Linked DNA regions of Homo sapiens. The main gene of each other region encodes a partner of the protein of the gene in region 2 in a complex. Each region holds a gene or a part of one and is shown on either strand. Other genes may lie near its edges. The genes, in order: S100A13 and IL1A. A codon is read from its position in the direction of its gene.

Region 1 (11,097 bases), on a different chromosome or scaffold from region 2:
ACTAAAAATGCAAAAATCAGCCAGGCATGGTGATGCACGGTTCAAGAATCGCTCGAACCCAAGAGGTGGAGGTTGCAGTGAGCCGAGATCACACCACTGCACTCCAGCCCAGCCTGGGTGACAGAGTGAGACCTCGTCTCAAAAAAATTAAAAAAAAAAAAAATTGAAGTTCCATTTCACTCAGAATTATATAAGCGTAAATCAGAAAAAGATATCATTTTCACATCATAGATTAGCAAAAAGTAAAAGCTCAATAACACCCAGTTTGGACAAGTACACAGGCATCGCATGAAGTGTGGGTAGCCATATAAACTGGTACAACTTTTTTAGGAGGCAAATTGGTAATCACAAAAATTAAAAATGAAAGCTGGTCTCGGTGGCTCACCCCTGTAATCCCAGCACTTTGGGAGGCCGAGGCAGGCAGATCATCTGAAGTCAGGAGTGCGAGACCAGCCTGGCCAACATGGCGAAACCTCGTCTCTACTAAAAATACAAAAATTAGCCAGGCGTGGTGGCACAAGCCTGTAGTCCCAGCTACTCAGGGAGGCTGAGCCAGGAAAATCGCTTGAACCTGGGAGGCAGAGGTTGCAGTGACCCGAGATCATGCCACTGCACTCCAGCCTGGGTGAAAGAGCAAGATCCTTTCTCAAAAACAAATTAAAAATGAACATGCCACTTAACCTAATATTTCTACTGCCAAACATTTACCTTATGTTGTTATTTTTCCACCAGTATGTAGGTATACAAACAGATATTTGCAAGAAGGAAGAAATGGACATAAGAAAAATTTCCATCAATAAAGGATTGGGCTGGGCATAGTGGCTCATGCCTGTAATCCCAACACTTTGGGAGGCCAGGGCAGGAGGATCACTTAAGCCTAGGAGTTCAAGACCAGCATGGGCAATATAATGAGGCCCTGCCTCTACAAAAACATTTAAAAATTAGGCCTCAGTTTCCATATATGTGAAGTGAGGAATGGGGACTGTGTTTTCTCTTGGCCTCCTTCCAGCTGTGATGGTCTGTGAATCTCCTGGAAGCCAGCTCTGGGTCCAGTCCTGTCTTGGGGAAATTAGACCAGAAAAGCACAGAACATACACAAGAACCCAACAGCATCATCTGATACAAGCCCATACTCCCACTGGCACACAGTATCTTTGCTTACCTAATTACATGCACGCACACGTACAGAGGCCCTGTCTCTACAAAAAAATTAAAAAATTAGCCAGACATGGTGGCACATGCCTGTAGTCCCAGCTACTCAGAAGGCTGAGGTGGAAGGATCACTTGAGCGTAGGAGGTAGAGGCTGCAGTGAACTGTAATCACGCCATTGCACTCTAGCCTGGGCAACAAAGTGAGACTCTGTCTCAAAAAAAAAAAAAGAGGTATCAGTTGTAAGCTGGTAAGAACGATACAGTGGAGAAGGAAAATTTGAGGACACAAGAAAGAGAGGAGTAATTTCAAGAGGAAAGTCTTTTTTTTTGAGACGGAGTCTCGCTCTGTCGGTCACCCAGACTGGAGTGCAGTGGGTGAGAGGGGATGGGATCCAGGGCACCAGTGAAGGGTTGGCCTTAGGGGCAGTGACGTATCATTTGCATAACAGAAGACTGCTGATTTCGGGGAGGGAGCACATACAAGTTTCCTGATTGCTCCTATTTTCGTTTCCTTTTTTTTTTTTTTCCTTTGAGACAGTCTCCCTCTGTTGCCCAGGCTGGAGTGCAGTGGTGCAATCTCAGCTCCCTGCAACCTCTGCCTCCTGGGTTCAAGCAATTTTCCTGCTTCAGCCTCCCAAGTAGCTGGGATTACAGGCGCACACAACCATGCCCAGCTAATTTTTTAAATATATTTTTAGTAGAGATGGGGTTTCACTATGTTGGCCAGGCTGGTCTCGAAGTCCTGAACTTCTCAGTGAGTAAACTTCTCAGGAAAAGGGAGAACGTGGAAAGATGTACTGAGCTTTGAGGAGAGAAGACAAATTGTGAAATAATTATCTGAAAGAACTGGTAAATGAATCAACCAGGGAAACACAGAACCGCCAGGTATTGCCAAGGGTCCCTTTTGGGGTCTGTGGTTATAGATTTAAAGTGAGACAAGTCAACAAAGCTATGCATTTTTCTCCAGCCAGATTCAGCTATCCAAGTGCAGGTGCAGAACAGTGGATTTAACTGGCAAGTTACTATAGGTGAAATGGTGGATTAACTGGGTTGAGAACAGAGAGAGACAGAATCAACGGGGTTAAGGCAGTGATTACAATTAGAAGCCTTAGAACCTGAGGTGAGGAGGAAGGGCAATGAGGACCCGAGGGATGTTGATGGAAGATGCAAAAGTGAGAGGGTCGAGAGACTGAAGGTACCTGAGGAGTCAGGGAAGTGCTGAAGTGGAGAAGCTAGAGAGGGGAACAGAACTGGAATGACAGGAGGAGGTCAGCAGATAAAGGGAAACTTGAAATCAAGATTTTGGAAGTTGTGCGTTATTTTGTTAATGACACAGTCTAAAGCATGAACAGAGGAGTGGGATGCTGAGATGTAAGAAGACAAATCTTTTTGGAAATGAGGAGTTGAGAAAATTGAAAGGCCCAGATGTTGGATGAATTGTCTGTGCGGATGCTGAAGCCACTGAGAATAACAACAGAAGCAGTGATGAGAAGAAAACAGTGAGCCAGGAGCTGAAGAGCTGTAAGGAGCGCAATAAGAAGAATGGCAGGTGGCAGATGATCTTCCAAGGCGCTGGGAAGTCTTAGAAAGAAGAAGAAACTAAAATCTAGAGATAATGGAAAGCAGAGAGGTCACTTCCTCCATTTCCAGGCCCAGAGGAAGTTGAATTTAGGAAAAAAAAAAAAAAAACCACAATCACTGCTTGACAAGGATATAAGGAATGCTGTCCCTTCAGGAGAGAACCTGAAGTTTCCAGTAAAAAAGATGAAAAAGGAAACGTCTGGCTGGGCACAGTGGCTCATGACTGTAATCCCAACACTTTGGAAGGCCAATGCAGGAGGATCACTTGAGGCCTAGAGTTTGAGACCAGCTTGGGAAACACAGAGAGACCACATCTCTACAAGTAACTTAAAAATTAGGCCAGGCGCGGTGGCTCACGCCTGTAATTCCAGCACTTTGAGAGGCCGAGGCAGGTGGATCACCTGAGATCAGGAGTTCGAAACCAGCCTGGCCAACATAGTGAAACCCCGTCTCTACTAAAAATACAAAAATTATCCAGGCATGGTGGCGGTTGCCTGTAATCCCAGCTACTCATGAGGCTGAGGTAAGAGAACCACTTGAACCCAGGAGGCAGAGGTTGCAGTGAGCCAAGATCGCACCATTGCACTCCAGCCTCGGTGACAGAGTGAGACTCTGTCACAAAAAAAGAAAAAATTAGCCAGGCAGTGTGGCATGCGCCTGTGGTCCCAGCTACTTGTGAGGCTGGGGCAGGAGGATTGCCTGAGCCCGGAAGGTCAAGGATGCAATGAGCTGTGATCGCACAGTGGCCTGGGCAACAGAGTGAGAAACCCTGTCTCAAAAAAAAGTCTGAGAAGTTGGAAGTTGTAGGGGATTTTGCAGATGAAAGACCATGAGTTTCAGAGACTCACTGTGTTCAAGGAGTCCATATTCACACACTTCAACGTGCCTGTGGATTTTCAGAAAGGATGTAAAACAAACTGTCAACAGCCAGAATGACCAGGCCTCTTCGAGGCCAGAGTCGATGAAATTTAAGACCTGACTCCAGCCTGTGAGTGCGAGAGAAGGAATGACTCTTACACCCTAGTAAGGGGATGCCCATAGCGGGTAGGGAGTCTTCACAGATGCACCCACAGACCCCCTACACTGAGGTCTATGACTCCATGAATTTGGCTGTGTTTTCATTTTTGATAAGCCCCTTTCCACTGCTAGGCCTCAGTTTCCATATATGTGAAGTGAGGAATGCGGACTGTGTTTTCTCTTGGCCTCCTTCCAGCTCTGACAGTCTGTGAATCTCCTGGAAGCCAGCTCTGGGTCCAGTCCTGTCTTGGGGAAATTAGACCAGAAAGGCACAGAGCATACACAAGAACCCAACAGCATCTTCTGACACAAGACCATACTCCCACTGGCACATAGTATCTTTGCTTACCTAATTATATGCATGGACACACAAACACACACATGTACACACCAGGCAAGAAAACTCACAACCGGGTCAGGCGCAGTGGCTTGCGCCTGTAACCACAGCACTTTGGGAGGCCGAGGCGGGTGGATCACCTGAGGTCAGGAGTTCGAGACCAGCCTGGCCAACCTGGTGAAACCCTGTCTCTACTAAAAATACAGAAATAGGCTCGGCGTGGTGGCACACACCTGTAATCCCAGCTACTCAGGAGGCTGAGGCAGGAGAATCACTTGAACCCCGGAGATGGAGGTTGCAGTGAGCCAAGATCACACCACTGCACTCCGGCCTGGGCAACAGAGTGAGACTTTGTCTCGAAAAAACAAAAGAAAACCTGCAACCATTGACACATGCAGCCACCCACACCCTTTCTTGTGGTCACCTCACCGTACTCGGCACCATCACGTCCTAAACACAGTGTCCCATAATCATCATCTCACAAAATCTCAGTCCCAGACTTCTGCCTACCTTGAGCAGATGGGGCAACTGCTGGGTAACCAGCTCTTTGAACTCGTTGACGCTGAGGCTATCCTTCCGGCCCTCCTGCCTTGCAAAGGTGAAGAAGGTGGTGACCACGGTCTCAATGGACTCCTCTAGCTCTGTCAGTGGTTCTGCTGCCATTAGGACCCTGAGGCCAAAGCTGATGTCCTCAAGGGGCTAGCTGACCTTTGTCAGGGCTGACCTGTGGAAGAGAGAAGGAGCAGAGAGGGAGAGTCAGGGAGCCCCAAGATGCAGGAATGGTTCAGAAGGTCCCTGCCTTGGTGTTATCACATCAGTCTCAGCCTGGAGGGGGCATATGGGGAAAGAGGGAGAGGACAGGGGTTGAGCTTGGGGCAGCAGACCAGGCAACGGCATCTCAGTTTTGGTGGGGGCAGGAGATTCAGCTCCAGAAACCCCCTCTTCTGTAGGTCTCACAATCCGGGATCCTTTTTAAATGTCTGTGGCTTAGGGACCCCTCTGTGGTGATCCCTCGATCTGGAGACCCCTCTACTTGAGAGGAGGTCTTCAGTTGAAGGTCCTTCTTGGAGTCCTTCAAGTCTGGTGGCCCCTCTGTGGCGTGTCTGTCTCAAGAATCCCTTCTTGTCTCACCCAGACTCACAGGTCATAAGGTTGTTTGTCTCCAAAGCTTGTTTATGTTGGGCCCTGGTCTCCGGCCACTCGCATCCGCCCACACACACTCTAACCGCTCCTCCCAGCAGAGAAGCACAGGGTCTGGCAAATGTCCCCTGTGGTCAGAGCTGGCTCCGTCTGAACAGACCCATTTTCTCTGCCCCGCTCCACCCTTACCTCTCCTCAGCGGCAGCAGGGCAGAGTGCTGAACCCAGGACCCCACAGATCCTCCCCGCTCCTGTCTCCCGGTGACAAGGGTCCTGGAACGGGGCGTCTCTGACTCCCTGCTCCAGGACGGGTTTAGTACAGGCACTCACAACCCCCTGGGGTGCGGCGGGTGGGGCTGGAAGAGGCATTCTCTTTTCTGTCCACCCCGTCACACACTCCTGCACGCGCTGTTGCTCGATCATCCAAAGCTCCTTCCTGAATTCCTGTCTGAGCTGGCTCTGGGGGAGGGACCTGGGAGCCCAGGAAGAAAAAATGATCTCCAGCCTCCCTCCAGGGTCAGCCATGAGACTCACCCGGCAAGGAGATGGGGTAGAGTGAGCTGGAGCCTCAGGGCTGAGGTTTATAAGCAGCGGGGAAGGAGGAGAGAGCTGCTTCCAAGCCCGGAGGTGTCAAATTTCCGTGGTCGATTCTGAAGACCAGAGACAGCCCAATCAGGCCGCTTGCCCTGAGCCCTCAGGTCTGGACCCGGGCTCCCTGCCAGCCACACGAGCGCCCCCACTTGGTCAGGGAGAGGAGCTGCCTGGACAGATCTCGTTCGGCAGGGGTCCCAGGGTCCTAGTCCTCTCAATACTGGGGGCTGCTGCCACCATACCCATGTCTAATCAGGAGTGTGTATGCTGAGGGGGGAAGAGGGAGGCAACCAATCAAGGGAGCTCAACACTGAGAGGCCCAATCTGAGACACACACAGAGGCCCCTTGGAATGAGATCCCACAAAGGATGCTACAGACCAAGATCCCTCAGAGAACCCCAGGCTGAGGCCCCACACACAGAGGGGGATCCAGGTTGAGACCCCCAGAGAAGAGTCCTGGATTGAAATCCCTCTGTGGGTTCTCAGACTCCCAAGACTAAGTTTCTCACTGAGGGTCCTCTCAGTGAGGCCCCATGGAGGAGCCACAGACTAAGACCCCCTCAGCAGAATTCCCCCCTTACCGGGCTCAACCAGCACAGCCAGCCACAGGTACTGCAAGGCCCAGCTTGGGGTAAGACATCCAGTGTCCCTCCCAGGACCTCCTTCCCACCTCTTTCCCCTGCACCATCCACTGCTGCCTGGAGAGAAAGGAACGGGGCAAGCAAGGCTGGGAAAGAGACAAGGGCCGCCTGTTCCAGCCCAGGAGACAGAGGGCGCCTCTGTCTGCTCCTGGCCCCTTGCCCCACAGGGTGTTCGTCTGTGAAGGGGTGGAGTCGGTGGGGGGGTCAGCGGGGGAGGGACTGTTGAAGACAGGTCTCCACACACAGCTCCAGCAGCCACATTTGCAACCTTGGCCATCTGTCCAGAACCTGCTCCCACCTCAGGCCCAGGCCAACCGTGAGTACCCTGCCCCACTGGGCTAGTCCCTGGCCTGCCAGCTTCAGGGAGAGGGGTCTTCAGAAGGGCTCCAAGAGGCTGGGGACCATAGCACTGTGGAGCACTGAGGATCTGGGAGGAGTCAGTCAGGGTGAGGGCAGTTTGGGATTTGGGGGAGACAGGGTTTGGAAGGTGGTGATGAGAGACAAATGAACTGAAGGTCGGAGAGAGAGCTGGCAGCTCAGCAAAGGAGGAAGCCAGTGGGGAACCCACCATGAGCTTCCTGACCGCCTGGCCCTCCCACAGGGAGCCCTCAAGTCCCTGCCAAGGCCCCCTCTGTCTCCCAGGTGTTGGGAAGGGTCCCAGCCCTCCCCTGCCTCGCCTCCTGTGGGGTAAGAAGAGAGCAGATACAACAGCTGTTTCTGCCCCCACCTCTCCTGCCAGCCTTAGTCTCTGCCACCCCCACCCTGCCTTGCCAAGAGCTCAGGTCCCGGGGGAGTCTGGGGGTGGCAGGGCAAAGCTCCCATGATATGGGGAAGCAGAGATGTAGGGTGCTGTGCCCCTTCCCAACTCGACCTCCACAGGACCTCCCCTTTCTCCTCCTCCCATTTTTGGCCCAGACCTCTTGACTCCTCTTTCCCCCCATTCTTACCTCTTTGTTTCCCCATCTCCCCTGCCCCCAAGTCCTCTCAGAACTGCCACCACGTAAAATCCCAGGCTGCTTTAGGGCTCCAGGTGACCTCCAGCTGCCCCTCTGGCATGGAGCAGGTAATCAAGCTACCAGCACCCCTCCCTCAAGCACCCCTTATCCCCTCATCAGCCACAGCTTGGGTTCCATCTCCCCCATGTCTCTGTGACAACTGCTTCTCAGGTCCGGAGTTCAGATGACACTCACAAGGGCCCCATTGAAGAACTGGGATGTCATTCGATCAGGGGCCATTGTCCAGCCCCCTAGGCCTGGGGAAGGATGGGGACATCTGATCCGAGACACCTGAGCTGCCCCCTCTGGGGTTGTGGAAGGCCAGACTGTCCCAGGGCCAAGGGAAAGAGGCCCCCCGGCTTGGCAGTCTTCTCTCTCAACAGACCACTCCTTTCTCCTTTCTTCTCCTACTCTCTCCCAGCCCCTTGAACTCAAAGGACCGCATGCTTTCAGCCCTTTCTCTCCCCCAACACACAGCAGCCCCATTCCCCTTGCTCCCACTATCCCCGAATCAACCAGGAGTGAGCAGTTGCAGGGACAACGCCTGCAGGTCTCCTCTCCCACTCCCTGGGAACTCTGGCTCCAAGGAAAAGGCTCAGACATTCCTCTCTCCCCTTCTGCCACCCACCAGATGGAAGGGATAATTTTGCAGAGGCAATGGGAGCATATCCCAAAGAAGCCAAAATGACATGTTCAGGAGAGAACAGAGTTGAAGGACCAAAAGGGGCCCCCAGCTGCTGACAGGAAACTCAGAGTCAGTGAGACCTCCCTCCCCCAGAAGGCGTACGCCACCCACTGGGGCTGCCATCCCCTCTACCAGGCTGACCGAGGGTACCAGACTGACTCCTTGCTAGGGGTGGGCAGCAGAAGGAAGGCTGTAGTGGACACCCCAGCCCACCACCCTCAACAGCAGAGCTTGGCTATGCTAGACAGGCAAGGTCCAGGGTAAAAATAGAGCCAGAGGAAGCATGGCCCAGTCCTGTGACCACCCCTGCCTGCCCCACCCTCCTCAATCCCTGCCTGGGCAGCCACTGCAGACATCTACCACAGGCCTCTGGAGCCAGCCCAGCTCCAACTGCTCTCTCTCCATGCCCCAACCCTGATTCCCTCTGGCTGGGGTACAGACTGAGGGACACAGAGAACAGGCCTGCACTTAGGTCTCTTGGGGTTTCCCTCACATTGTAAAATCTCAGGGAAAGATCAATTGCAGTAGGGCTCTAATCCCACAGCTATTTGAGCTGTCAGCCAGGGCCAGTCCTGAGGGTTCCCCTCACCTAGACCCCAGGTACTCCGGGCCTGGTCCTCAGCTCACTTCCATGATGGGGGTGGGTAGGTGCACTGCTGCAATGGGCTCTGAGCTGGAGACGGCGATGGAGACCCTCATCAACGTGTTCCACGCCCACTCGGGCAAAGAGGGGGACAAGTACAAGCTGAGCAAGAAGGAGCTGAAAGAGCTGCTGCAGACGGAGCTCTCTGGCTTCCTGGATGTGAGCATAGAGTGGTGGAGTGGGAGTGGAGTGGGTGAAGGTTGGGGGAATGGGGTGGACACCCCCTTGCTATCTCCCCACCCCACCTCCAGCTCAGCCTAGCCTCTTTCTTTCCTTTCCCAGGCTTCTCTCCTGGGTTTTTCCAGGCTCCCCTACTCCTCCTGGGTCAAGTCAAAATGCCCTGGTTTATTGATCACCTGTTAAGTGTTAGGCCCTGTGTAGATTCATCAATAATAAGACACACAGACTTAGAAGGGAAAGATTGACACTTAAAAGTAAACCATGAACTCCAGGAAATACACAGAGCCTTAACAGATGTACCAGAAAGGGTTATGAGAGATTATTAACCTGATTGAAGTCAGATGGCTTTCCTGAAGAGGTGGCACTTGAACCATGGATTTCCATTGGAAGATTATCTGGGTAAATGCAGACATTTTAGGAGGAGGTAACTGAATGAACAAAAGCATGGGAGAAAGAAGAATGTGGAGCATGTCAGTAGTTTCATTCAACTGGCATGAAGGATGTAGAAAACTAGGCTGCTAAGGCTAACCAGGGCCCCAAAGTAAAGAAGCCTCAGGATACGGTAGAAAGTGCACCGGTTTTGAGGTTTTATTGGACTGGGTTCAAATTCCAGCCCTGCTACTTTCTAGCTGTGGGACTTTGGGCATATTTATTTAACCACCGATTACCAATTTGTTTCTTCTCTAGAATGGAAATAATGAAACATACCTCACATTATTTGTATTAGAATTAAATTAGACAGTGCTTGTAAAGCTCCTAGTGTAGTGCTTGCTTTATTATAGGCACTGAACATACGGTAACTGGTGTCATTATTATTCATTCTGCCAGGTGAAAGAGCTTATGCTGTAGGCAACAGAAGCCCTCAAGACCTTTGAGGAGGCCTAGAAGAGTCCCATAATTCAATGCAGTTCCTCTCGCTCATCTTTGCCTCCTGCTCCTCAACCACCCCCTTGCCTCTGACTCAGTGCTGTACCCTTCCCTATACACCTCCCTCTTCCTCTCCTCCCACCACAGGCCCAGAAGGATGTGGATGCTGTGGACAAGGTGATGAAGGAGCTAGACGAGAATGGAGACGGGGAGGTGGACTTCCAGGAGTATGTGGTGCTTGTGGCTGCTCTCACAGTGGCCTGTAACAATTTCTTCTGGGAGAACAGTTGAGCAGACAGCCACATTGGGCAGCGCCCTTCCTCTCCACCCTCCCAGACCTGCCTCTTCCCCCTGCTTCCACCTCACCCCACTTATCCCTCTCCATAACCCCACCCTTGCCCACCCCACCCCCACCCCCACCAAGGGCGCAAGAGTAGCGGTCCAAGCCTGCAACTCATCTTTCATTAAAGGCTTCTCTCTCACCAGCCATCCGATGTCTGTCTCCTCTGGGATCTGGAAGTGGGTGGAGACGTGAAGACTGTTCACTCTCAACTCCCCTTATTTGGGGAAGTGTCTTATTTAGAAAGAGGTCAAGGTGCATTACATCTTCCTACTTGAGGAATGCTCAAGGTCCAGAAATGTGGGGGTTCAAGGTTCCAGTTGGAAGTCGAGGAGACATCAGCTTCTCAACTATAAAACCAGAGGAAGAAATAATCTTTTTTTTTTTTTTTTTTTTTTGGAGACACAGTCTGGCTCTGTCACCCAGGCTGGAGGGCAGTGGCACGATCTCGGCTCACTGCAACCTCCGCCTCCCAGGTTCAAGCGATTCACCTGCCTCAGCCTCCCGAGCAGCTGGGACTACAGGCGCCTGCCACCACGCCCGGCTAATTTTTTGTATTTTTAGTACAGACGGGGTTTCACCATGTTGGCCAGGATGGTCTCGATCTCCTGACCTCGTGATCCCCCCGCCTCGGCCTCCCAAAGTGCTGAGATTACAGGCATGAGCCACCGCGCTAGGCCGAAAGAATCTTCTTTCAATCAACGAACATTTACTTAAGTGGTACTATGTGTAAACACTGTAGGAACTGAGGCTCCAGCATTAAGCAAAATAACCACGATCCTTACCCTCACATGGGTAAGGATGCTGGGCCATTACTTACACACAGACACACACAAACACATACACACACGCACACGCCCAAGTGCCAGGAAGGAAAATGAAAGGGTCTTGACGTGCCAGTGGAGCAGAGGAAGGGTTGCAGATGTGTC
Region 2 (16,796 bases):
GATTAGATTCTCAGGGATGCATTCACTAAGTAAAAGTGATAATAGCTACTTTTAAGTAAAATAATGAATGAATCAAACACTCTAAATCCATGGTGCTATGCTAAGCTCTTTCTGTATTTTATCTCATTTGATATTACAAATATTTGATGTGTTAATAGTAATGACTATCTCCATTTTTACAAGTAAGGAAACTGACATTGAGAGATTAAAAGACTAGCACAAATCACAAAGTAAATGAGATTTGAATCCGGTCTTGATTCCAAACTCTACAGTATTCTAAATTCAAGGAGACTAAATTATAAGATGGAGAGCCAATTTTACTTTATAACAGGGTTAGAATGGCAGAAGAGACCTGACATTCACACCTCTAGCCAGTGCATCATCTTCCTGTAGGCAAATATGCAGGAAATCTATAATAAGAACGTCCTTTGGTGAAGGCCAGGTGCAGGGGCTTACACTTGTAATTCCAGCACTTTGGGAGGTCAAGGTGGGAGGGTCGCTTGATGACAGGAGTTTGAGAACAGCCTGGGCAACATAGTGAGACCCTGTCTCTACAAACAAAAACAAACACAAAACAACTTCAAGAAAACTCCTTTGGTATGGATCAGAACAAGATGAATTATCTATCTGATCCAAATGCTTAATGACATTAAGCCACAGTCCACTCACTGCCACAATAGAGATATACCTGCCAATGCCACTCAGGTAATCCCATCAAAAGTGGTAATGAGGTCTGCAGCATGACTTGTTCTTAGTGATCCCAGCCTGAGACCTTGAGATTGCAGCATTTTATTCTACATATGCACAAAACATCTGTTGAAAAATCTTCTAAATTGATGCAATACATTCGTATCAAGAATACCTGTCTGTAATCTCCATAAACCCTCTCCTTTCTGTTTTAAAAAATAGTAACAGCATTTCTCCTTACATGACAAAGAAATGACTTCACCATCTACGAAATAGTGAATAGGAGCTGTGTGGAAGGAAATTAGCTCTACTTCTTGGTGGAGATGAGAAGGGAGTGTTCCTCTGAAAATCAAGGCTCTTGTCATGCTAGGAGCCAAAGTCGTTTTTTAGAGTGTGGACAGTTGAGAAGATAAGACAGGGACCATCCACTCATGTTTTTCTTATTCCATAGGCCTCTCTCAATTGGGCAAAGCACTCCAGACCTTTTGGAAGAGTGACACCAAAGGCAAGCACCTGCTTGGCAGGCCCCTCAGCTTCTACGCAAGTATAAGTGAGTATATAAAATGGGGGTACTTGTGCTGTTGAGTACCTTATTTCCAAATGAGGCCTGCCGGTGTCCCTGTGGCTGTGAGAAGGCCTCTACTGGATAGGTGGAAGTTGTGTGTTCTCATCTTTTCTAACCCTGGATTGACTTGCCCAAAAGGAAGCCATTATTAACACTATAATAAAACCATCCTTAATCTGGGACTCTCTTCATGCAGTGGTTCTTAACCAGTGATAAACATGAGAGTTACTTTTGGAGCTTAAAAAAATTAAGATGCTCAAGGTCTACCCAAACTGACTGAATCTCCAGAGGTGAGGCCCAGGGATGTATACTTTTGAGCCAGACCTCAGTTTACCCTGCAGAGCTCATAAGGTTGCATAACACCCTTTGTCAGCCACTCTGATAAAAAGAAAAATTGGTGAGGAATAAGTTTTAGAGAAGAAGGAGCAAAGGTGTTCTTGGCCAGTGAGAGCCAATGACAGGGAAATGCAAACAATGTATCCACAAGAAAGGTAAATTACCCTATAGAGCATTTTAGGATAAATGAACATCTCATGCCTAGGGTTGAGAGAGGGTACAAAAAAAAAAAAAAAAAAGACCACTCTGGATACACAACGCGATAAATGGAATAAAGAGTTTTTTCCTTGTAAATTAAAAAAAATCCTTTGTTACTGAGGTATAATTTAATCTATTTTATGTATAGTTCAATGAGGTGCTATAGATAATAAATTTTTTTTGTAAATTATTATATTGTCATATACTCATACATTCATTTTTAAAAGTCAGAAATGTATATAACCATTAAACTTATAAATCATTCAGTCATTCAGAGATATAGATACACGAGCATATTTTATATCCACCACAATAATTATTACCATCTCAACAATTCCATCACCCCTCAAATTTCAAGCGTAGGGGTTTTTAAATGTCAGAGGAGTCTACTCAGTGGGAGGAAGGTTAGGGAAATATCTTTTGGCTTTTTGCTTCTGTCCCTTGGGTTTAAAGGCAGGGATTTGGCTTTACTCTCATTGATTTGGAACTTGATATATAGGACTGTAAGAAAAGAAATAGACTGTAACAAGTTCTGTGCTAAGACTGTTGAGTCTCACCATGGTGACTCTCTTACTGTTTAGGCAATGAGGGAGGTGGGGCAGACCATAAGGATAGCTGGCCTGGGAGAATAACGCTCCAAGGCCATTTCTACAATGATTCCATATTTCACTGTTAATCAGAGACTGAGCAGCTATTATACTTTTTAAGATTTCTTGAATTTGTGTTGCTTGCTCAGTGTTTTGTATTTCCTTATTTCTTAAAATATATTAATATAAAAATAATTCTTTAATATTTCTTAAAACAAAAGGACATTAAGGAATCAAGTCTTACTTAGTCTTGCTCTAGCCAGACTTGGGCTAAGGAAACCCTAGGAAAGTCGTGGCTGCTAGAAAGAACAGGATGAGACAAATGAGAGACCAGTTCTCTGTGGTGCTCTGTATCAGTTAAGCTAGATTTGACTGCAAGTCATAGCAAACCCAGTGAAATGGCTTAATAACAGTAGCATTTCTTGTTTTCTTAAAATCTGGAGGTAGGTTCTCGGTGTAACAATGTTGTCAGAGATGCTGGCTCTTTTTCTCCTTCCACTCTGCATTCTTCATTGTGTGGCTCTGACTTCCCAGTCGTTGCAAGTTGCTGACCACAGTTCTAAGCTTCACTTCCTCATAGAACATATCTCATTCAAGGAAGAAGGAAGATAAAGGACCATCTATATGGCTCTTTATTTTATCAAGGTAGAAAATCTTTTCCAGAAGTTGTTTCCAGATCGACATCTCATTTGATAGGATTAAGTCAACGTGACTTAGTCATGTAAGAATAGAATGAACATAATCTTAAACCAATTGGATTCATCAATTGGGGAAGGGCATGTTGACTTCTCAGTGAAATCAGGGTTCTGTCAGTAAGGAAGAAGAAGAGATGGCAATTGCATGGACAAACAACAGTGTTCACCATATACTTCTCTTCTCCCTTTGACATCACTTTTAGGATTTTATCTACTACATACCTACTGATGTCTTTCATATCTATATACAGTTATTTTTCTGAGTTCCAGATAGGTTATCATCTCCCCATTGTACATCTGCAATTGAGTGTCCTTCTAGTAGCTCAAATTACATGCCTAAAATTTTACTCATCATTCATCCTGGAATGGAGAAGACCTCCATATTTCTACCAAAAATATGGTTAAGACGCTGCCACTCATCCAGTCTCCAGTACCAAGAAACAGGGTCATCTTAGACTACTCCTTACCCAAATCTACCACACCTAATTCCAAGATCCCTTGATTTTAACCTTGATTTTCCAACTAAATATATCTTGCATCCATGCTTTGATCTATTAGTTGTTCTTTTAAAATTCTCTTTTATATATTTTTTAACATTTTTAAAAATTTATCTTTTGAGACTGGGTCTCACTCTGTTGCCCAGGTTGGGGTGCAATGGTGTGATTATGGCTCACTGCAGCCTCCATCTCCCAGGCTCAAGTGATCCTCCCACCTCAAGCCTCCCGAGTAGCTGGGACTACAGGTGTGTACTACCATGTCCAGCTCATTTTTTAATTTTTCATTTTTTTTTGTAGAGATGAGATCTCACTATGTTGCCTAGGCTGGTCTTGAACTCCTGACCTCAAGTGATCTTCCCACCTTGGCCTCCCAAAGTGCTGGGATTACAGGTCTGAGCCACCGTGCCTGGCCTATTAGTTGTTTTTAATGTAGCTCTGTATGTGTGAGTTTGTATAAAGATGGGAACACATGTTTTGTGTATGTGTAATGTGAGCTTTAAGTGAACCCGGAAATATTATCATTCTTAATGCCATTTATGCATACTGGCAGCTAACAAAGAGGAGAAAAAAATATAAAATCTTGGTTTGATTTTATAAAGTAACACTAAATACAATTATTTATGTAAACATTTACCATTTGTCCCTAATTACCATGCAGTAAAATAATGATTAAGGCAATGAATAACTATGTGTCAGAGAATTTTGTTGCAAGCTTTATTTAGTTATGACTGATAACACTCTATCAATCACTATTGTTGATAATAATGTAACATTATGGTCTGATCACAATTTTTAGAACCTAGAAGAAACATTGATTACATTCCAGAAAAGAAAGTTTTGATAACAGTGGTCTCATGGTTGTCAAAGTTGAGTTCATCTAATTTTAGCTTGTAGGACTTGATTGCAGGTGGAATTGAAACAAGAATGCCCAGGTAAGTTTAATGGCAAAAGAGTCAAAGATCGGACCAATTACTGGCTCAAGGTAATTAATGTACATTTATTATATGATTACAGGTCTCCCAAGTACTAGAATGCAGAGTTTCCTGGCTATGGGATAAGCACAACTTGGACCAAAATGCCCTGTATTAATGAAATCAAACTTACTTATCCCAGAAAACACTGTCTGCTATTGTGGAGGATGCCTGGTCACACTCAGAGGATGAAGGGGTTCCCATAAATATAGTATATTATAATTATCTTAAATATATTTATAAATACATATATAAATAATAATTAAAAAATAACATTTCGTGCTTTGCCTTCATCTTGAGGCTCGGCTTCAAGAAGTATTTTACCAAAATGACCTCCCTGATTAGCATAAAAAACTGTTGCGGCAGGAAGGCTTAGGTATTATTCCCTCCATTTTGAAAATGATAAAACTGAGGTCCCAGAAACTTATGCTATTTGATTAAGAGTTCATCAGCAACTTAAAAGTAGAAGGCAAACAGTTGAAATGAAATCATGAAATCCTAGGTCTGTGGCTTCTTGTTTCAACTGCTATTGTGCATATTTCTTAGTTTTCTTATGCCTTAATTTGCCCATCTGTAATATGGGTAGAGTCTTTTTGGTAGCCATAGTCAGTAGCTCTGGTCCTCCTAAAATTGTTATGAAGAATAATAATTAAAATGATTGGTACTATGCAAAATATAGGGTGTTCTTTAAATAACAACATTATATGTTAGTGTTGGTTCCACTCTTACAAAGAGTGTAAACATTCATTTAGAATTACAAGGCTCAGTACATGCTCAGCAAATGACTAACAGTAAAGGATTTAGCTTCTTCATGTACATGGTACATATGAACTGTCAACACTGCACAAGTGAGACAAGTGAGACTCCAGACCTACGCCTGGTTTTCCAGTATCTGAAAGTCAGTGATAGAGGGTGGCCCCCCTGCCAAGCACACCCAGTAGTCTTGCTTTGTGGCAATAAACAAGTTTGGATGGGCAACTGATGTGAAATAGTTCTTAGTGCCGTGAGTTTCCCAGAAGAAGAGGAGGTTGGTCTCACTACCTGTGATGGTTTTGGGTATCTCAGGCATCTCCTATGAAGAAAAGAAGAGAATTCTGTTAGAGAACAAGATGGTAGAAAAAGGACTGAAGCTCAATCCCTTAGCATTTGGCCTTCATGAGAAACAGCACTTTAGGACTATGGCTGTAACATGATGCTATAGGCTCTTCATTCATTTGTTCATTCAGCAAGCATTTATTACATGCCTAGTAGATGTGTGGCCCAGTCTATTAATAAGAGTTGATTTCCTTAGTTGATTGGAGAGAGATCTAAATTAGTTATGAAGATTGTCAGTGACACTAGTATCTTACTGTATCCAGGCAGGTAGGAGGGAAACATTGTTTCTGTCCTGCCTTCAACATAGGCCTAAGACATTTTGCATCAAATCTGAGCACTACAGTGATTCTAAGCCCCCTAAACATTTTGATCTCCAAGTGAACAAATCATACCTTTGGAAATCAATTTAGCATTTAGATGACATTTATCTCAGTATTTAAGTCAACAATTGAAGGTTAAACACACGCACACACATACACACACACACATACACACAAAATTCCTAAGTATATCAGTAAACTCTTTCAATATACTCTTTAGAATGTACTTTTCTTGTGAGTATGAGTAGAATTTAACAATACTTTTATGGAAAAATAGATTTCAAATTCCAAGTTGAGATGCTTCTTTCCTATTCTTTTAAATCTAAAGCAAGTAAATATACTTTTGAGGCTTCCTTGGGGTTTCCAATGTCAGCAGGATTTATTTCCCAAACCTATTCCTCTCCTACTTTTTCCCTTCTCAGTAAATGTTGTTTCTCCTCTTCCTTCTGTTGGTTCTATCTCCAAAATATAACCCAATTCTGTCTGTTTCTTTCCACTTCTTTTCCTTACCCCACCCCCATGACTGCTGTGAAACCTCCTCATTGGACTTTCTGCTTCTCTATTGCCTTCCTTCTGATCTGTTTTCTATTTTAGGAAATATAAGTGAGGTCAGGCCATTGCACTGTGTGAAACCCATTAATGGGTTTTCATTGTACCTCAAATGAAATCCAAATGCAAGCTCTGCAAGCACTAGTCTCTGCATATTTTTCCTCCTTCTCAAAATGCCCCAGTTCCAAGAATGCTTCTTCTGATCCTTGGAGCTGTCCTTTACCATCTTGAAGTTGTAGGCCTGGGTGCATTCAGACTCCTCTGAATGTCCCAAAAACCCACAACCATGACCCGCCCCCTCCTCTGAATGTCCTACCCAAAAACCCACAACCACGACCCGCCCCCTCCTCTGAATGTCCTACCCAAAAACCCACAACCACGACCCGCCCCCTCCTCTGAATGTCCTACCCAAAAACCCACAACCACGACCCGCCCCCTCCTCTGAATGTCCTACCCAAAAACCCACAACCACGACCCGCCCCCTCCTCTGAATGTCCTACCCAAAAACCCACAACCACGACCCGCCCCCTCCTCTGAATGTCCTACCCAAAAACCCACAACCACGACCCGCCCCCTCCTCTGAATGTCCTACCCAAAAACCCACAACCACGACCCGCCCCCTCCTCTGAATGTCCTACCCAAAAACCCACAACCACGACCCGCCCCCTCCTCTGAATGTCCTACCCAAAAACCCACAACCACGACCCGCCCCCTCCTCTGAATGTCCTACCCAAAAACCCACAACCACGACCCGCCCCCTCCTCTGAATGTCCTACCCAAAAACCCACAACCACGACCCGCCCCCTCCTCTGAATGTCCTACCCAAAAACCCACAACCATGACCCGCCCCCTCCTGTCGGCAGCTCTCATCTCACAAGGGGCTTTGTTTTTACCACTTTGTCTAAATAGCACTCTCCCACTTTTCTCTATCTTAGCACCCTATTCATTTTTTTTTTTTTTTGCAGCATCTTGCTCTTTTGTTGGTTGTTTGGGTTGTCTGTTTTCCATATCCTCCAGAAGACTAAGTTCTATGAGACTAGAGGCTTTGATGCACCACTGTCCACACTGCTGTTGGCACTATGCCTGAAAAATAGAAGGCTCTCAGTGAATAATGCTTGTTGAATGAGTTCATGAATGAAGCTACTGCCCTACTCTGTAGACATCACTTGATCCAGGTAGAAAAGCACAGGCAGGCACATAAATTCTACTTGGGAATAGAAGGTCTTGGATTATATACTTACAAATTGAGTCACCTACTTATCAGTGGAGAAAACATCTAAGGCTGTTGTGTGTGTGTGTGTTTGAGGGGGAAAGTGGTAGTGGAGACAGGACTGGGACGAAGGATAATGCTGACATCAATGCAGAGAGAGGGGAACTGGAAGCAGCAGGCCCCATTTTGGGACTTGGCTCCCAGCTTGTTGCTTTGTGCCCATTGGCAGGTGATTAATCCTCTCTGATCTCAGTTGGCTTATTTGAGTTTCTTGGAGGCAGGCCACATTGTCCTAATGTCTAGTATTGTGTAGGTCAGATAATAGATGTCAGTAAAGATCAATGGAATAAATGGATGCTCTGGGATGGGAGGTGAATAAGGTCAGGCAGGGAAAGGAAAAAGAAAGAAGGTAATTTTCCTCTTACTCTCTGTTATATTTTCTCATAGAGCCTGCCTAGGCACGCCTCTGGAATCAATGGGAGTGGGGTGGGCAGGTGGGGGCTGTGGTAGGAAGGAAAGAGGACAGTGTCACCTTGTTAGAGGTGTCTGCCTATTGGGCTTATTTACAAACATATGAGATGTAAATGAAGGTAAGTTGGAGACAAAGGACAACTGACCTTCAGCAGCACTGGTTGGTCTTCATCTTGGGCAGTCACATACAATTGAGTTTTTGAGATTCTTAGAATCACGGTAATTTTAGCATCATCCTTTGATGACTTATAAGCACCCATGTCAAATTTCACTGGTGAAGAGAAGAACCAAAAAGAAAGTAAATTCATTGTATTTGTATAAAATCAAGTGTTGATGTAGATTGTGTGTGCATGGTGTGTGTGTGTGTGTGTGTGTGTGTGTGTGTGTGTGTGTAGTTAGGTCCCCACCTATGGTGTAAATACCTGGAAGTCAGGAATGGAATTCTATACATCTTTGTGTCCTTCACAATGTCTTCCACACTCACTAGGCAGGTAAATACTTGGTTAATGTTCTTAGAATTTTCTACGTTGAATGAATCCTTCGGGGCTGAATAAGTGTTGAATCTCTTATAATTTCATTAGTGGGATAAGACCCTGTAATTTGTTAGATCATAAGTTCATAATGACCTAACATGGAGGGGTTTAGGAAGCTGATACACTCATATGTTGCTAGTGATACTGAAAAGTAGTTCAGTTTTTACTTACAGAATAATGTTTAATAAGAGCTGTCAAATTATTTGTGCCCATTGATCTAGGCATTCCTCTTTGGGATGTGCTCAAAGAAATTACAAGATAGGAGAAAAAACAATAATATATACAAAGATATTTGCAATCAAGCTATTTAGAGTAAACCCAAGGGACCAACGTAGCAACCTGATTGAATTGTCTAGTGATATTAAAAATGGCAAATACATACACGATGTCAATATTGGGAAAATTGCAGAAATAATATTAAGTAGAAAAATAGAACACAAAATAATTTGTAAATGTAGAGTTGAAAGCATGTTAGCTGAAGTGCATCCAATCAGAAAAAGTCTTGCTTGTTTATTGCAAAATTGCCTCTCTGGACCTTTGAAAATATGTATACTGTTGAAACTAAAACATGTCCGCCATGAAAATTGGATGTGTGTGATAAAAGTTTTTGGACACTAAACTTCATCCTTTAAGCCATATTTGTAGCTTATTGGAGGTTTTGCCTCACAAATATGTTATCAGAGATAATAAAGATCTTCCTAGTTTGGTGTTACTTGTGAGTTTGATCAACAGACTTTTTAAAGGAGAGTGATTGTTCTTCATTGGCTTCTGGGTAAATCTGAGTAAATCATTTAATATGTCTGACAGTTTCCTCAGTTTTAAAATTGAGGGTAAGAATGTCTGAAAGAACCAAAGAGGTAGTACATCAGCTAGCTTTGTGCACAACCCTTTACTCTCAAAGATAGGAAACTTCTCTCTTGTGGAACTTCCAGATTTAGTTGAACCTTCTGCCCTGGCTTGGGATTTTTATGGGGGTGCTGTGCTTCAAGCTATTCTGGAAGAATTGTGCAACCCAGAACTCTGAAGAGGTATGTTTTTTGCAAGCAGAAAGATTGAAATAAATAAATAAGTAAATGAAAGGAGGGGAGGATGACAGAAATGTCTGGTGCCATTTTAATGTACCTGCTTCATCCAGATTATGTAATGCAGCAGCCGTGAGGTACTGATCATTGGCTCGAATTATACTTTGATTGAGGGCGTCATTCAGGATGAATTCGTATTTGATGATCCTCATAAAGTTGTATTTCACATTGCTCAGGAAGCTAAAAGGTGCTGACCTAGGCTTGATGATTTCTAAAACCATGATCACAAGTGCAGATTAATGTCTATGTACAAACACAGATGATATACACAGTCTAGTACAAACAGGGAAAATAGTTCTGGAGGGGATATTAGGAATATTCCAATCCAGATGAGGAAGCAAAGAGAAGTGAAATCACCCAGTCAGCAGAACTGGTTTTCTAGGATTATCCTTGTTGTTGCTTATGTGCTTCTTTTTAAACTTCAATTCCTCAGGCAATAGTTTCATTGTTTTTAGAGACTATTTGTGCAACTTTTTCATTTTTCATTGTTTGGGTGTTTCTAACTGACAAGGAAGACTACCAGTATTTCCCGTCTATGTTTTCAAATGAATGCACTCTGAGAAAAAAAGAATGCATTAAAAATAATTATATATGTCACAGAGAGTGCAAAGTGGCACATATCAATAGCGTCACAAATCCTCATGGCTCTGGGAAATTCTACTTCTAGGAATATATTCTAAGGAAATAAAGGGTGAGAGAAATGAATATTTATTTATACAGATGTTCATTGTTGCATTGCTTATAATGGTGAAAAACGGGCACTCTAAAATGTCCTCAATACATTGCTAAGTAAGAAAAGCTGGATATAAAGTTGTAAATAGTGTGGTCTTGATGTTAGACATATTTGTTCACATGTAGGTATGTGTATAGCAAAGATTTTAAGGAAACATACCATAGTGCTGGCAGTAGTAAACTCTCACTGACGATATGAGTGATTTTTATTTTCTTATATTTTGTTACATTTTAAAACCTTCTAGGTGAACATGCGTTATTGCTTAGGTATTATCTTAAAAACAGGAATATTGGGTTTATAGTTCATGTGGAGGCTTGTACAGTAAAGGGATGGAGGAGAAACCATGATTTTTTTACTCAGGTAGAACTGAATTAGATTTGAGGCTCTCCCACTTACAGATGTATGCCATTGGGCAGTTTACCTATCTCAATGAGCTTAGTTTCCTTTTATGTAAAATGAGAAGGTAGGATTCTTGTGAGGTTTAGACATAATCCAGTCATTAATAAATTAGTATTGCTGGTAGTATTCATATAGGTAGTAGTAGTAGTAATAATAATAATAATCATAGGCCGGGCGCGGTGGCTCACGCCTGTAATCCCGGCACTTTGGGAGGCCAAGGTGGGTGGATCACGAGGAGATGGAGACCACGGTGAAACTCCGTCTCTACTAAAAATACAAAAAATTAGCCGGGAACAGTGGCGGGTGCCTGTATTCCCAGCTACTCAGGAGGCTGAGGCAGGAGAATGGCATGAACCCAGGAGGCAGAGCTTGCAGTGAGCCGAGATTGCGCCACTGCACTCCAGCCTGGGTGACAGAGCCAGACTCCATCTCAAAAAAATAAAATAAAATAATAATAATAATGATAGTAATAGCTAACATTTATTGGGTGCTTACTTTGTACCAGACATTATTCTAGTCCAGAAGTTAGGGGATGTTGACTCATTTAATCTTTATAACAGTCAGGAGGGCCCAGCTAGCTCAGTCTGTAAAGCCTGAGACTCTTAATCTTTACAGCAGTCCAATGAGTGGGGGATTCTGATTATCTCCATTTTACAGTAGAGGAAACTGAATCACGAAAAGATTATGTAACATGACCAAGGAGGCATAGTTAGTATGAGAGGAACATAGCTCGTAAGTGGTCTTATTACTGCTTTCTCCTGAAAGGCTAAAAGTCACACGACCTTTACAATATGGCTAAGAAATAATGGCTGTGAGCAAGTATTCTCGATTCAGGCCACTGCTCATTTCTCCCTCCTGGAGAAGGATAAAAATTAATTTTCCTCTGTATAGTTACCAGACTAATGCTTGGTTGTCTTCTTGTTATTCTGACTCCACGTTTAATTTTCCCCTAAATTCTACTGTCCCTACTTGCTTAAAACTGTAAAAGAAAGATATTATTGTGCTTGACCCCTTACCTTCCTCTGAGTCATTGGCGATGGCCTCCAGGTCATCATCAGTGATGGATTGGCTTAAACTCAACCGTCTCTTCTTCAGAACCTTCCCGTTGGTTGCTACTACCACCATGCTCTCCTTGAAGGTAAGCTTGGATGTTTTAGAGGTTTCAGAGATACTCAGAGACACAGATTGATCCATGCAGCCTTCATGGAGTGGGCCATAGCTTACATGATAGAAGGATTTCTGTGAGGAAGGAAAACAGAAGCTGAGAGGCTGTTCATGGTCAGGGAATGAAAGTTCTTTCAGTAGGTGCTGTATTCAACAGAGGTAGTGAGGAGGATCTCCATTCTGGTCTTAGGTAACTGGTGTTTCATTAGGCTTCCCTCCCTCTCTCCCTTTTGTCTCACCTTCCTTCCTCCTTCCAGGATAAAAAGATGATTTTTTTAGGAAGACTTTTTCATTTATTTGCATGCTCAAAAATGAGATGTTGTAACTAAATAGGTTAACAATGATTGTAGTGAGTGGTAGCTTTCCAATTAGTTCCCTCTCAGGAGGTTAAAAATCTGCTTAACAATGCTCAAAATATTTTAGAAATACTCCTTTGGGGACAGCTTTTAAAGCCAGTACTGAAGACATACTAGGCAGTACTTATAGTGTCTATTTGTGGTCTCCAAACACAATAACACAGATTGATGAGTGGCTGTAGACTTCTCACTTTCAACTGGCTTGCTTCCTCTCTCTCAGCTTCATGTTTGGAGACTTTCTCTAACCTCTGATGCTGGTGTCAGAGAAGACAACCACAACACATCACGTTAGGAGACAGACACCTGGTGAAGCGGCCTGCGGGGCCTTTCTCAGGATGGCATAACTAACATCCTGATGAAGCCTGCCCCAGGAGACTCCAGTTCTCAGGGATTTGGGATGGTTCTGCTCTGTTCTGGGAGAAGCCAATGCACATCAACTATTAGTTTAGAGAGGCAGCTGGTCTCACTTATAATGAAAGACAGGTCTCTGGACCTCTAGTGAGGGTAAAACAAAAGTATTGAAGATTCAAGTCATTGCTGTTCTCTTTGGATGAAGAAACCACTGTGTAAGAATAGCAGTCCCATGAGAATTACAGTCATTTGCTTACCTGATTCAGAGACAGATGATCAATGGAGGAACTGTCTTCTTCATTTTCACTGTCAAAATAAGATGATGAGAATGTAATTGTTGTTATTTCAGTGTGGTCTCTGGCCAATGTACTTTAATGACCATGATAGTTGTGGGTCACACACATACACATGGCCATTACTGTCATCTTTGAAATTTAAGGACTTCTACACATACACATAGGTAGAGTAATTCATATCTTACTAATCTGGAATTAGTAGTCATCAAGACAGGCTTTGAGCTTTACCTGTGCTTTATCTGTAAAAATTGGACTTGGCTAACAAATTGAAGAGCTTTAATTGAAGTTCAGGGAAGAATGTTAAGCTCCTTTAGAGAAAAGAAAGGTTTTGAAGCACTTCCTTTTTATTTTAACCAAATAGATTATATGTTACACATTACTTTCATGTATTCACTAAAACAGATTTCATAATTTATACTTAGTAAAATATCCAGGCAAAATTTTGACAGCCTAGTTTGTGTTAGTATTTACTACAGATAATGGAAACATCATGTTAGTTTAATATGTTCCGTAATTTTATCTTTGTGTTCATTTACCTTTCTTCTACATCTGAGTGAGATTTGCCTGCATATGTGAGTTCACATGCCCAGCTTGCTGTGGAGCCATTTCCTGTTCCTGAATGAGATCAAGTTTTCCTGAGAATGGACCAGTAAAACCCATTCTTATATCAGGGCATGTGATCTCAACAGAGGCTGTGTCTAAGTTGATGCTGATATTCATGTAGGGCTCAGCAGACCTCAAAAATAATTTTTCTAAAATGGCGGTCTCCCTGCCAATGTAATCTCAGTTTAACATGCTGAATGCTTAGTTTTTCTGGGTCTTCTCTGAACCTGCTCTGACTTCAGGACTAGTACACATCTCTACAACCTCTGCCGGCCTGCCCCCATGCTGGCCACTGTTATGCCTAGCTGGATTCTGGTGAGCCTTGAAACCCTCATTAAATCACAAGAGATAAATCTTATTCCTTACCTGTAACAGTTCTTCAGGTCTTCAAACATGTCTGGAACTTTGGCCATCTTGACTTCTGCAACAGAGAACACCAGCCACCATCAGCTCAGCCAGCCTCTAATCCAGATATCTGTGAGGGGAGCCCCTCCTCTTTGTGCTTCCTGAAAACTTTGTTGAATGACTTAGTCCACATTCAGCATTTTCTCCATCTTCTAGCTCCTTTGAATTAGTTTGCTATGTACCTGTCTCCTTTATTAGATCGTAAACTTCTTTTAGAATGTTTTATTTATGTTGGTATTCCTTATGTGCCCAACCTAATGTATTGCCAGAACAGGCATTCAATCAATGAAAGTTTGAAGAGGTTACAAAAACACCACAAGAATAAGGTATTTGCCTTACACAGAGGTAAGAGAGAGACAGAGTTGGAAATTTTCAATTTTCTCCTAATAATTTTGGATAGTAGAGATTCCCTCCCATGAGAAGCCTCAGTTGTATTCACCCATGCCCTCATAGGAAACTAGTTCTGCTGTCCCTCAGTATAACGAATCAGTCCTTATCAGCAAAATGAGAGAATCATTTTCTGAAATCTGACTGTAATTCTAGGTCACATACCAAACCAGGGAGGGACAAGAAAAGAAAGGAGAGGCTGTAGCTTTAGAGAAGGCAATGTGAGAGAAAACAGCCAAAGAGAAAAACAACAACAGAAAATACTTTAATAGCCAGAGATGTGAGGACAATACCTTTGCTGACTCAAACGCCAATGAAATGACTCCCTCTCTGGCTGGCAGCTTAAGCCTGAGTCAGTCTTCTTCGCCTTTTGTAATTGTCTTAAGTAGGCGTGGCTACGTGGCTACAAGTGCGTCGTCAAAACGGGGAATTTACAGGGAAGAATTCAGTTTTGTATTTTTCTATGTTCATTCAACTCGATACTGGCTAAAATAGTGAAAGATGGCATAGCTGATATTATTGTTGTTTGCAGATATTCCAGAAGTTATTGATTTGGTTCATTTATTCACCCCTTTGCTTTATAAGATGACAAACATGTAGTCTTAGAAAAAGGGAAGCGCGGGAAACTTATCAAGTTTCTAGGAGGAAGGGAGAAATCGTGAAATCCGAAGTCAAGGGGCTAGATTTGGAGAGGAATTTATTAATAATAATAGTTCTAATAGTAGCTGTAGTTGTGTTCTGGCTGAATTTGTTGATTGTGCTCCAGGGTGAATTGGCAGAATACTTGGCAGCTCCTGGCAACTTTTGAGGGAAAATGAGCCATCTTTTCTGAAGAGGGAAGTTTGCTTGATTAAGGCATAAATCACCTCAGAGTTTGGGGTGACAAGCTCCTGGTTAGGGCAGGGTAGAGAAGAGAACAGTGGTATTTGAGCACAAAGAAGTCTTGATCCTCTTACTCTTCTGAATATTGTCAACACATTTCCTATAGAGGGGATGGAGCTTCAGGAGAGAACTCTCCACCCTGGCCCTGTTACAGTAAAGTAGCCCTCTACCAAGGACCAGAGAGAAGCCTGGTCTTCTGTAGGATATGCCCAAGGTGTGTCTTCTGTAGAAGAAGGTGTGTGCAAGCCCCGGGAGGTATGCGTAAGGCCTCAGCCAGAAGCCAGTGGCTAAGTTTGGGAATGGAGATTGGGAGAAAGGAAGGCATGGATTTTTACATATGAGCCTTCAATGGTGTTGCCTGGTTACTATTATTAAAGAATTTCTCAGCTTTTATAATTCCTGTGGCCAGCCTAGTTCAGGTGGTAGAACACCAGACTCTTAGCAAATGAATGTTTTGGGTTCCCAGTTGGAGTTTAAGCCATGTATATTTTAAATAGAGGAAATGAACTAGGTGTGATGGCATGCCCCTGTAGTCCCAGCTATTCAGGAGGCTGAGGCAGGACAATCACTTGAGGCCCAGAGTTTTAGTCCAGTGTGGGCAACATAGTGAAGCCCCCATCTCTAAAAAATAATAAACGCAAAAAAGCATGGATCTGGGAGGAAAGCAGCTTGTGTGAGTTGGATAAAGTATTCCCTCTGTTCCTGTTTAATTGTAAATAATGGGGTTGGTTAGGTGTCATAAGGTCTATTGCAGGTGCAAAATCTCTTATTCTGATTTAATGCCAGTCTAATTCTCCTGGTCATAGACCTGGTGCTATAATAGTTATAACAGGAGCCACAGAAATAACCACACTTGGATGTAAGCAATGTAAGTGTAGCACCAGACTAGGGTAGAAGCTTGGGTGTCTAAGGATGAATCCTGAAGCAACAGTGATGCCAGCCAACTGGCTACATTTCTGCTTACCTTGGTTCCTCTTTAGGCAACACAGAAATGTTAATCCTGATTAACCCTCTCCTCCTGAGAATCTTGTGAGGGCTATTGCTAAGGAACAATTGCAAAGCACATTGTGAATGTGAGCTGCTATGGAGATGCAACTAAACAAAAATAATGACAATGCTAATGATGGCTTCAGTCACTCAAGAACCTGTATAGTCATCATTATAATGCCTCAGTTCACCAAAGAAAATATAGTTCTTATGAAAATACTGGCTTGAAAGCTTCAACAGGGATAACATTTTCAGGTGAAGGCCACCATTGAAAGCCTGAAGATATTTAGCTTCTGGGAGCAATGCATACCATCTCTTTGGTAATCCAGGAAAAAAACCCTGGTTCCACCAACATAGGCAATACCTATCCTGGTCCCATCCTCACTCCTCTGTTGTAAATAATTCCCCAAAGGTGGTTGTTGAATTTTTCAAAGAGA

What was found.
Region 1: the proteins of IL1A (region 2) and S100A13 are in contact, whole or in part, in an NMR structure (PDB 2L5X), measured with the Homo sapiens proteins. Residues at the interface, in NP_000566.3 of Homo sapiens: Asn148 (codon at 9,885), Gln150 (codon at 9,879), Tyr151 (codon at 9,876), Thr194 (codon at 8,363), Ala195 (codon at 8,360), Gln196 (codon at 8,357), Asp197 (codon at 8,354), Leu203 (codon at 8,336), Leu204 (codon at 8,333), Lys205 (codon at 8,330), Glu206 (codon at 5,608), Met207 (codon at 5,605), Gly216 (codon at 5,578), Ser217 (codon at 5,575), Glu218 (codon at 5,572), Thr219 (codon at 5,569), Asn220 (codon at 5,566), His239 (codon at 5,509); in NP_001019381.1 of Homo sapiens: Met1, Arg25, Gln26, Glu27, Gly28, Arg29, Lys30, Asp31, Ser34, Asp68, Ser69, Glu70, Lys72, Phe73.

The regions. Positions count from the first base shown.
Region 1 is NC_000001.11:153,621,723-153,632,819, forward strand, and holds the start of S100A13 (protein S100-A13), read right to left. Parts: upstream 5,784-11,097; 5' UTR 5,761-5,783; exon of another isoform or gene 4,972-5,760; intron 4,812-4,971; 5' UTR 4,751-4,811; coding exon 4,598-4,750; intron 1-4,597. Other genes in the region: S100A1 (protein S100-A1), read left to right, coding at 8,800-8,940, 9,976-10,119. UniProt on the Homo sapiens protein: Plays a role in the export of proteins that lack a signal peptide and are secreted by an alternative pathway. Binds two calcium ions per subunit. Binds one copper ion. Binding of one copper ion does not interfere with calcium binding.
Region 2 is NC_000002.12:112,769,660-112,786,455, forward strand, and holds IL1A (interleukin-1 alpha precursor), read right to left. Parts: upstream 14,835-16,796; 5' UTR 14,784-14,834; intron 14,742-14,783; exon of another isoform or gene 14,656-14,741; intron 14,120-14,655; 5' UTR 14,112-14,119; coding exon 14,065-14,111; intron 13,106-14,064; coding exon 13,057-13,105; intron 12,168-13,056; coding exon 11,945-12,167; intron 10,008-11,944; coding exon 9,837-10,007; intron 8,453-9,836; coding exon 8,328-8,452; intron 5,609-8,327; coding exon 5,408-5,608; 3' UTR 4,266-5,407; downstream 1-4,265. UniProt on the Homo sapiens protein: Cytokine constitutively present intracellularly in nearly all resting non-hematopoietic cells that plays an important role in inflammation and bridges the innate and adaptive immune systems.